Linked DNA regions of Homo sapiens. The protein of the gene in region 1 purifies or fractionates together with the protein of each later gene. This does not show direct contact. Each region holds a gene or a part of one and is shown on either strand. Other genes may lie near its edges.

Region 1 (5,552 bases):
TTGTTGTTTTATACCAAAATTGAGTGACACAAAGTTAAATCCAAGTGCTTTTTCATTAGCTTTTTCAAAGTGACCATAGGTTGCATGTTATAATAACCCTGAGTTACTCAGAGAAAAATCTTGATCTAGAAACCACCACGGGTTCAGTCTCCTTTATGGGAAGACAGAGGATCTGGAGATTGGATGCAGCCACTCCGGGACTCACCAGGGGGCTGTGAGCCTGCATCTGCAGCCCTGAGGCAGGAGCAGCCACTCAACACCCAAGAAGGTGTCCGTCTGCCTCCTGCGTGTGCTCGCTGGCCTGGCTGCATCTGCAGAGGGTTCTAGAACATGCGCTGCTGGACTGTCCACTTTTCCACCCCTTTCCCTGACTCAGGGAGCTGAGAGCTGACTAGGCTGGCACAGTGAGGCCAAAAGATGATTTTCTAACCAGGCCGACGAGGGCGTGCCTGCTGAGGGAGAGGCACCGCAGTGGGTGGTCCAGCCCTCCCCGTGGCAGCGCCGCGGGACTTCCAGGGCTGCTGTGTCCCTCCACCTGCATTTCCCACTGAGACCCCGTGGAGCCTACCAGGGAATCATCTTGCTTCCCACATCCCCGGCCCACTGATGAATCTGGTAGTTAACTGAAATATGGCCGAGGTGCGGGGACACAAGGTGCGGGGTGGGGTGCTGACTGCCAGCTCCGTGTGTGGGGACACAGGGCTGCGCAGCTCCATGTGGGGTGGGGTGCTGACTGCCAGCTCCGTGTGTGGGGACACAGGGCTGCGCAGCTCCATGCGGGGTGGGGTGCTGACTGCCAGCTCCGTGTGTGTCAGGCAGGGGTCCTCGCTGAGGATGAGGCCCGGGGTGGGGGACCGTCTCCAGCAGCGTAAGTGGGGCCGCAGCGTGTGGGGCACAGCATGTCCACAGTGTCACTCCTGCAAACGCTGCCAGGTTGTCAGTATAGGATATTAACAAATGATTTAATTTAAATGTCTACGCATCATCTCTTCTTACAACAGAAAAGAAAATCTGATGTCTGTAATTGTTTCTCCAAACAACATATACAGCGTTCAGGAGAGAAGTCCTGAACACACAGGTAGTGGATCAACGAGCTCCAGGGGTCACGTGGCAGCACGGAAGGGCTCCTGTGCTGATGCTGAACCCGAAACACACTGGCCGTTCTGGGGACCATGCCTCGGAACTCCAGCTGCACAGAGCACTTGCTCCTCTAACAGCTCCACAAGCTGAGGCCAAGGAGGGCGCTGGGGCCTGAGCGAGGAAGCGTGCTACTTCCCACCAGCGTGTCTGAGGCTGAAACCTTGCCCAAGCCTCTCAGACTCAGCAGGGTGGGTGCAGCGCCTGAGGCTCTGAGCATCAGCAGGGCGGGGTGGAGCGCCCGAGCATCTCAGCATCAGCAGGGCGGGGTGGAGCGCCCGAGGCTCTGAGCATCAGCAGGGCAGGGTGGAACACCCGAGGCTCTGAGCATCAGCAGGGCGGGGTGCAGCGCCCGAGGCTCTGAGCATCAGCAGGGCGGGGTGCAGCGCCCGAGGCTCTGAGCATCAGCAGGGCAGGGTGGAACGCCCCAGGCTCTGAGCGTCAGCAGGGCGGGGTGGAGCGCCCGAGGCTCTGAGCATCAGCAGGGCAGGGTGGAGCGCCCGAGCATCTCAGCATCAGCAGGGCAGGGTGCAGCAACGGAGCATCTCAGCATCAGCAGGGCGGGGTGGAGCACCCAAGCATCTCAGCATCAGCAGGGCGGGGTGCAGCGCCCGAGCCTCTCAGCATCAGGAGAGTCCATGTGCCACCCAGGGCAGAGACCTGCCCTCCAGAGCCTACTGCAGAGTCACAGGAGAAAAGCACATCTCCCACCTGTGGCCCTGCATCCCTGTGGGGTGCGCCTGGCCGAGGCTCCCCACTCAGGCACATCTTAGGAAACACAGGGAGCACTTTAAGCCTGATTTTTACCTTCATCTCACAAAAACAAAGAAACAAAAACCTTTAAAAGATAACTTTGCAACTTTTAAAAACCCAATAAGAAAAAAAGGTAGTTAAATATACACCTTCATCAGCGCTGTTACCTTCCACTGACCACTGGAGAAGCCAGCGGAGGAGACCCGTGGGATGGGCTCCACAGCACTCAGCAGCAGGAAGAAAGGACCAGAGGGATCCACATGACCCAGAGCACTCAGGAGGGAAGGAAGGGGCCGCTGATCCACGCTACGACCCAGTGTGCTGAAGACGGAAGGAACGGGCCACCGATCCACACCACAACTCAGCATGCTCAGGGTGAGAGGAATGGGCCACGGATCCAAGCCATGACCCAGTACACTCAAGACGGGAGGAACAGGCCACTGATCCATGCCACGACCCAGCACTCTCTCCACACCATGACCCAGCACTCTCAAGATGGAGGAACGGGCCACTGATCCACCCCACAACCCAGCACACTCAAAACCAGCAAGATGCCAGGGAAAAGGAAGCAGACGCACAGCTCCACGCACCATGGCTCTGTGCAGATGGGATTCCGAGTAGGCAGTGCTGCTCGCCCCGCAGCAGGCACCGGCTGCCGGACACAGGTGGGAGACGGACTGAGCACAAGGGGCACGAGGAGCCCCATGCCACGGGCGAACAGTCTTGGTCCTGATTGTGGCGGCAATGACGTGCAAAGTGACTCACTCAACTGTGCTCTTAAAGTGGGTGAATTCTCTTGCTTATAAATTGTTTTAATTGCCTTTATTCAGATATAAGAAAAAGTCTGCAGTCTGGATATATTTTTAAAGCTAACTATAGACTATTTACAACATACACACTCAAGTTTAAGGATGCAGAAATGTAGAAGGTAAAAGGATAGAAAAAGACATATCAAGAAAATCCTAACCAAGAGAAAGGTGGCACTGCCGCATTCGTACGGGATAAATCAGACTCTGAAACAAAAAGAACCGTGAGACATAAAGAGGAATACTTTACAACAAAAGGCCTGTGCCACCGCGGAATCATGGGAACCGCTTCACTAGGAAATCTGTTTACAAACAGTTAAAAGTTTGTATGCAGCTAACAACAAAGTCTCAAAAATACATTTAAAAATCTGGCAGAGCCGGGCGCACTGTTGTGCACCTGTAATGCCAGCTATACAGGAGGCTGGGAAGGAAGGATTGCGTGAGTTTAGGAGCTCGAGACCAGCCTGGGAAACAAAGGGAGACCCCAACTCTACAAAAAAATTGTTTTTAAAAAATCTGACAGACTACAAGAGCAATGAAGAGGAATCAGTCCCATCAGATATTCAAACACACCATAGAACCTCAATAATGTAGACAGTGTGGTGCTGGCACATAGGTGGACCAACAGTGGACTGGAATGGAAACCAGAAGTGATCCTGCAGGTATAATGGAACTGAGCTCCTGCTATAGCTGGTGAAGATAGCCTTCTAAATAAATGCTGCTGGGAGCTGGGCACGGTGGCTCACACCTGTAATCCCAGCACTTTGGGAGGCCGAGGCAGGCAGATCAACTGAGGTCGAGAGTTTGAGACCAGCCTGACCAACATGAGAAACCCCATCTCTACTAAAAATACAAAATTAGCCAGGCGTGGTGGCGCATGCCTGTAATCCCAGCTACTCGGGAGGCTGAGGCAGGAAAATCGCTTGAACCTGGGAGGCGTAGGTTGCGGTGAGCTTGGATCACACCATTGCACTACAGCCTGGGGGACAAGAGCGAAACTCCATCTCAAAAAAAAAAAAAAAAAAATGCTGCTGGGAAAAGGTAGAAATGGATTCAGACCCCACAGTGTGCCCCACTACGTGAACCTGCTTCATTTAAATGGAGCATGTGTGAGCGTCTGTGTGTAATGAAACAAGATAGGAAAGCACTCAACCTCACCGAGAATTAGGGAAACGCAAACTAAATCCAAACTGCAGTATCATTTAGTCGCCTGGATGGAATCATTGTAATCCTGCCACAAAAGCCTTGGCAAATGAAACCCCTCCGTCTGCTACGGCCAAGCAAGGCTCTCCTAGAGAGGCTCTCCGGGTATGTGCCCAGGAGACGGGGACAACACGTTCACAGCCACACCGTCCGTGGTGACGCACACGTCCAGCAGGCGAGGACTGAATGGCGTTCCTCACGAGGAAGGGAAGGCCCAGCGATGCCTGTCAACACGGAGGAGTCTAAAAGCAGTGACGGGGAACAGCAACAGCAGAGACTGCAAAGTACAAGCCCCTATAAATCAACTTTACACTGCACAGCAAGCAATGTGGTGTTTAGACACATCTGTACAGTGAGACTCAAGAACAGTGAGGATGTGATTCACGCAAGACGTGGGGCAAAGGTGCCCTCAGGTGGGGAGGGCATTGCTACGAGGAAGAGAAGGGCTCTGAAAGCGCGGCAGTGTTCCGCTGCAGGCCTAGGGGTGAGCCGCTTTTGATGACTCACTGAACCTCGTCTAATGGGCGCAAGCTTGCCTTTTCACGTTAAAATGCAAGAGGCAGGGACGTCTCCCATGCTCCACAGCACCCTCACGTGGGGTGGCGCCTTCGCAAGTGGACTCAGCGGCCCCACTAACCCCCGAAATGGGGTCGCGCCTTCGGAAGGGGACCCAGCGGCCCCGCTGAGCCCCGGACATGGGGTCGCGCCTTCGGAAGGGGACCCAGCGGCCCCGCTGAGCCCCGGACATGGGGTCGCGCCTTCGGAAGGGGACCCAGCGGCCCCGCTGAGCCCCGGACATGGGGTCGCGCCTTCGGAAGGGGACCCAGCGGCCCCGCTGAGCCCCGGACATGGGGTCGCGCCTTCGGAAGGGGACCCAGCGGCCCCGCTGAGCCCCGGACATGGGGTCGCGCCTTCGGAAGGGGACCCAGCGGCCCCGCTGAGCCCCGGACATGGGGTCGCGCCTTCGGAAGGGGACCCAGCGGCCCCGCTGAGCCCCGGACATGGGGTCGCGCCTTCGGAAGGGGACCCAGCGGCCCCGCTGAGCCCCGGACATGGGGTCGCGCCTTCGGAAGGGGACCCAGCGGCCCCGCTGAGCCCCGGACATGGGGTCGCGCCTTCGGAAGGGGACCCAGCGGCCCCGCTGAGCCCCGGACATGGGGTCGCGCCTTCGGAAGGGGACCCAGCGGCCCCGCTGAGCCCCGGACATGGGGTCGCGCCTTCGGAAGGGGACCCAGCGGCCCCGCTGAGCCCCGGACATGGGGTCGCGCCTTCGGAAGGGGACCCAGCGGCCCCGCTGAGCCCCGGACATGGGGTCGCGCCTTCGGAAGGGGACCCAGCGGCCCCGCTGAGCCCCGGACATGGGGTCGCGCCTTCGGAAGGGGACCCAGCGGCCCCGCTGAGCCCCGGACATGGGGTCGCGCCTTCGGAAGGGGATCCAGTGGCCCCGCTGAGCCCCGGACATGGGGTCGCGCCTTCAGAAGGGGACCTAGTGGCCCCGCTAATCCTCGAACGGGTCTGGTCCTTGCTCTTGTGAATGAGACTGATGGACGGTGCCCGCAGCTCACTTCCTGGCCAGCACGTCTGGAATTCCGGTTTTGTTTCCTCACTTGCAACCATTAAAGTTCGCATGCAAAGCTGGAGACACATTTTGAC
Region 2 (3,396 bases), on another chromosome or scaffold:
GAGTGCAGTGTTCTATGAATGTCATTTAAGCCAGGTATGTTAATTGTTATTCAAATTTTCTGCTTGTTGGCCAGGCACAGTGGCTCATGCCTGTAATCCCAGCACTTTGGGAGGCTGAGGCTGGCGGATCACCTTAGGCCAGGAGTTCGAGACCAGCCTGGCCAACACGGCGAAACCCCGTCTCTACTAAAAATACAAAAATTAGCAGGATGTGGCAGCGGGCGGCTGTAATCCCAGATACCCAGGAGGCTGAGGCAGGAGAATTGCTTAAACCTGTGAGGCAGATGTTGCAGTGAGCTGAGATTATGCCACTGCACTCCAGCTTGGGAAACAAGACCGAAACTCCAATTCCCAAAAACAAAACAAAACAAACCAACAAATTTTCTATTTGTTATATCTGCTTTTGAAATAAACATATGAAAATATTTTTCCAAAAATTAAATTCCATAATGTATCAGGAAAGAAAAATATAATTTCATTCTAAGGTTTCCTATTCCAAATTTTTTCTCTGAGTTTTTGAAAGCAACAACTTTGTATATCCCCCTTTTCCTAGCCTTTAAGCAGCAGGAACAATGAGCAGAGGAATAATATGTAGTTAGTAAGCAAGGCATGCTCTGAAGGCTACCAATGCTGCTCCTGTTCCACCAGTGAAACAGGCCACAGGCCCTCTAAGGCTCTTGAAAAAAGAACGTGGAAGCATAGGGCAGCTGTGTCCCACTGACAGCCAGGCATGGAAACAATCCTGGAGATGTGCTCCAAGCCTTGAACTTGAGGAAATGAACATCAAAGTTCGTAAGATGTTTCAAGCATTACCTTGTCACTATGGAAGTCTCTCCCTACACTGGCACTAAGTTCTGGCCAATATGGCCAGGAGTGAAGTTCTGTCCCAGTAAAACATACTTTTATCAGGTAAGGGGCATCATCCCCCTCCCAGCCTCCCAAACAGCTTTTGTACCTCAGATGGAGTCTCCCCAAAAAACATGTTCACAAAAGAACCACTACTGCCATCTTAGCAGGGCTGTGTGTGTGTGTGTGTGTGTGTTGTGTAGGTAGACAGAGGGGAGAAGCAGGCATGACAAGGATCACCTGACCAAAGTGCCTAGTTACCCATATACTGATAGAATAAAATCTCCAGTGTAAAGGAAAAATTATTTTTACAAAAACAGAAGCATGTTTTATTTCAATCCTGTTAAGGGAGAGGGATGGAAAACACAAAATAAGGGGAGGGGTCTCTTTATATAATACACACACCAGGATCAACTACAATGAATAATACCCATTCCATCCCTCCCCCACCAACTCCTATGTGGGTTCCAAGGCCAGCTGAGAATAGATGGGACAAGAATTAAGACACTTTGGCACAGTAACATGGCCAATGCACCGAAAGATGGAGAGAAGAGAATTTCCCAGGGAGCAAGGCCCTGGGCCTCAGCTGCTTCCCCAGTGGAGGGGTAATGAGAAAACTTTGGCTCAGCAGGAAGGCGGTTGTCAAAAATCTGGGTTACCTTAACTGGACTCTCCAGATCACAGACTACGGGCTGAATAGAGTCAAGATGTCTATCCAGTCCATTCTGTTCTCTGCTTTCTCTAAGATCACTTCTCTTCAGGCTTGCAATTATTGAGGGTTGGCCTGCTTCTCCTCTTCATCTTGGAAGGCAGGGGGAGTAAGTGCTTATTCTGCCCTTCCTATATCTAGGCCACTTAATTACTATTTTCTTGGCTCTAAAGAGACAGAAGCCAACTAACAAGTCCGGCTCTCTTTGTGAAAGTCGGCTTGAAAGAGCCCTTGTGTTGGCAAAACTGCCTCTGCAAATGGGTTTTTTTTTTTTTGAGCCTACCCCTTATAGACCCTCCCCAAGCTTGTTCAGACACCTCAATTGTGTGAGATGTGGGCAGAAAAGACTTGGTCCCTCTCCAGAGTTGGATTAAGCAATCCCATCTTTGACTGGAGATAGGGATGAGAAAGCAGGTGCTAGCAGGGGAAAGAACCGGGGAAAGCAAGGCAGTTTACACTAGGTTGCAGATTCAAGCCTATGGATTGTGAAGAGCCACCTAAGCTCCAGAGAAGAGGAAATCTCTGACACGATATGAACAAGTGAATATTTTAGCGGCAACCCTGTAATTCCCATAGACTAAAAGAGAATGGTCAAAAAAAAAAAAAAAAAAAAAAAAAAAAGACTGAGTGAGCAGAACCCAGCCCTCCATCTTCAATCTGAATAAAATTAACTCATACAGCTAATACTGCTCAAGTACAATCATGAAGACAGATGGAGCTGCTGAAATTCACACTAAAACAAAGAAAAGGATCAAGTGGACTGTCACCTTAATCCCAAGCACCTCCCTTTTAGAGTTATTGAGAAAATATCTTTGAAAACTTGGATTGAAGGTGAGGTCCACCACCGCCCCTTGTCTCCCAATACAATACCCTTCCAAGACAGCCTGATTAATTAAGACATCTGTTTTAAGTTTAATAGAAGGGAAGTTCAAAAAGGGAAAGCACTGAGATTTGGGAAAACTAGCAGCTAAAGCCAGAAACAAGGTTAAGGTCCTCGTGGCATTCCGGACTGGGAGTAGAATGGGAGAAGGAAGGGAAACAGGTGGTGGGTTCCTGCTGTACTTTGGCTTTACATCTTTCCCCTGCCCTCCCATTTCTCCCAACAGCTTGATGCAGCTATTGGCCTGCCAGAGGGGATGTAATGCCCAGACCAACTTTTTATTGAGCTTATGCAGCTAACAGACTTGTAAACAGTGCCAGTCGACAAAGTTTTGCTGAATATTACAGCTTGTGCCCACTAAACACACCTCTCTCTGAGATTAAAAACAAAAAAACCAAAGTAAACAAATACTGAGAGAGAATGAAGAGACATATCTTGAGTCTTCCAGAAAGGCAAAATAAAAAACGCCACATGGCTTGGTCCCAGGCGTTCACCATGCCTAGAGTGCTGCTGCTATCACCACTGTCTCCCCTCCCTGCCAGTGGCTAGGTAGAGGTAGGGGAGAAGGGTCATCTTGGACATGCTGCAAATACAGCATTTGCTGGTGTTGACACCCTCCTGGGGCTGTGGTGGCAGACTGCTGTGTCAGGAGCCCATTTCCTGGGAGTAGCAGAGGGAGCCCAGGTCCTCAAGACAGCCTGAGATGGCAGCCCATACACCTCAGCAGGGGTACCTTGCCCCTTTTCTCCAGTGCGGTTCAGCATTGAGGTTGTCTATTCCCAGTCGGTGATAAAACCTGAGCTGTTTTTCTCGTAGGTTCCCCCTCCTTTCCCCAACTTGGGGGAGTAGTGGGAGGGAACAGGGAAGGATCACTGAGGGGGCAGGGGGATACCCCGGGGATCGGTGACCTGGCCCTCTTGCAGGTTCTTCACCAGTTGTGCAAGCCAGCGTTTCGTGGTGG

The links.
Region 2: the proteins of WRAP73 (region 1) and CNOT9 purify together in Homo sapiens (affinity purification with mass spectrometry; 3 studies listed by BioGRID and IntAct, with this or other methods). This does not show direct contact.

What each region holds. Positions count from the first base shown.
Region 1 is NC_000001.11:3,639,035-3,644,586, forward strand, and holds part of WRAP73 (WD repeat-containing protein WRAP73), read right to left. Parts: intron 1-5,552.
Region 2 is NC_000002.12:218,594,185-218,597,580, reverse strand, and holds the end of CNOT9 (CCR4-NOT transcription complex subunit 9), read right to left. Parts: coding exon 3,305-3,396; 3' UTR 501-3,304; downstream 1-500. UniProt on the Homo sapiens protein: Component of the CCR4-NOT complex which is one of the major cellular mRNA deadenylases and is linked to various cellular processes including bulk mRNA degradation, miRNA-mediated repression, translational repression during translational initiation and general transcription regulation.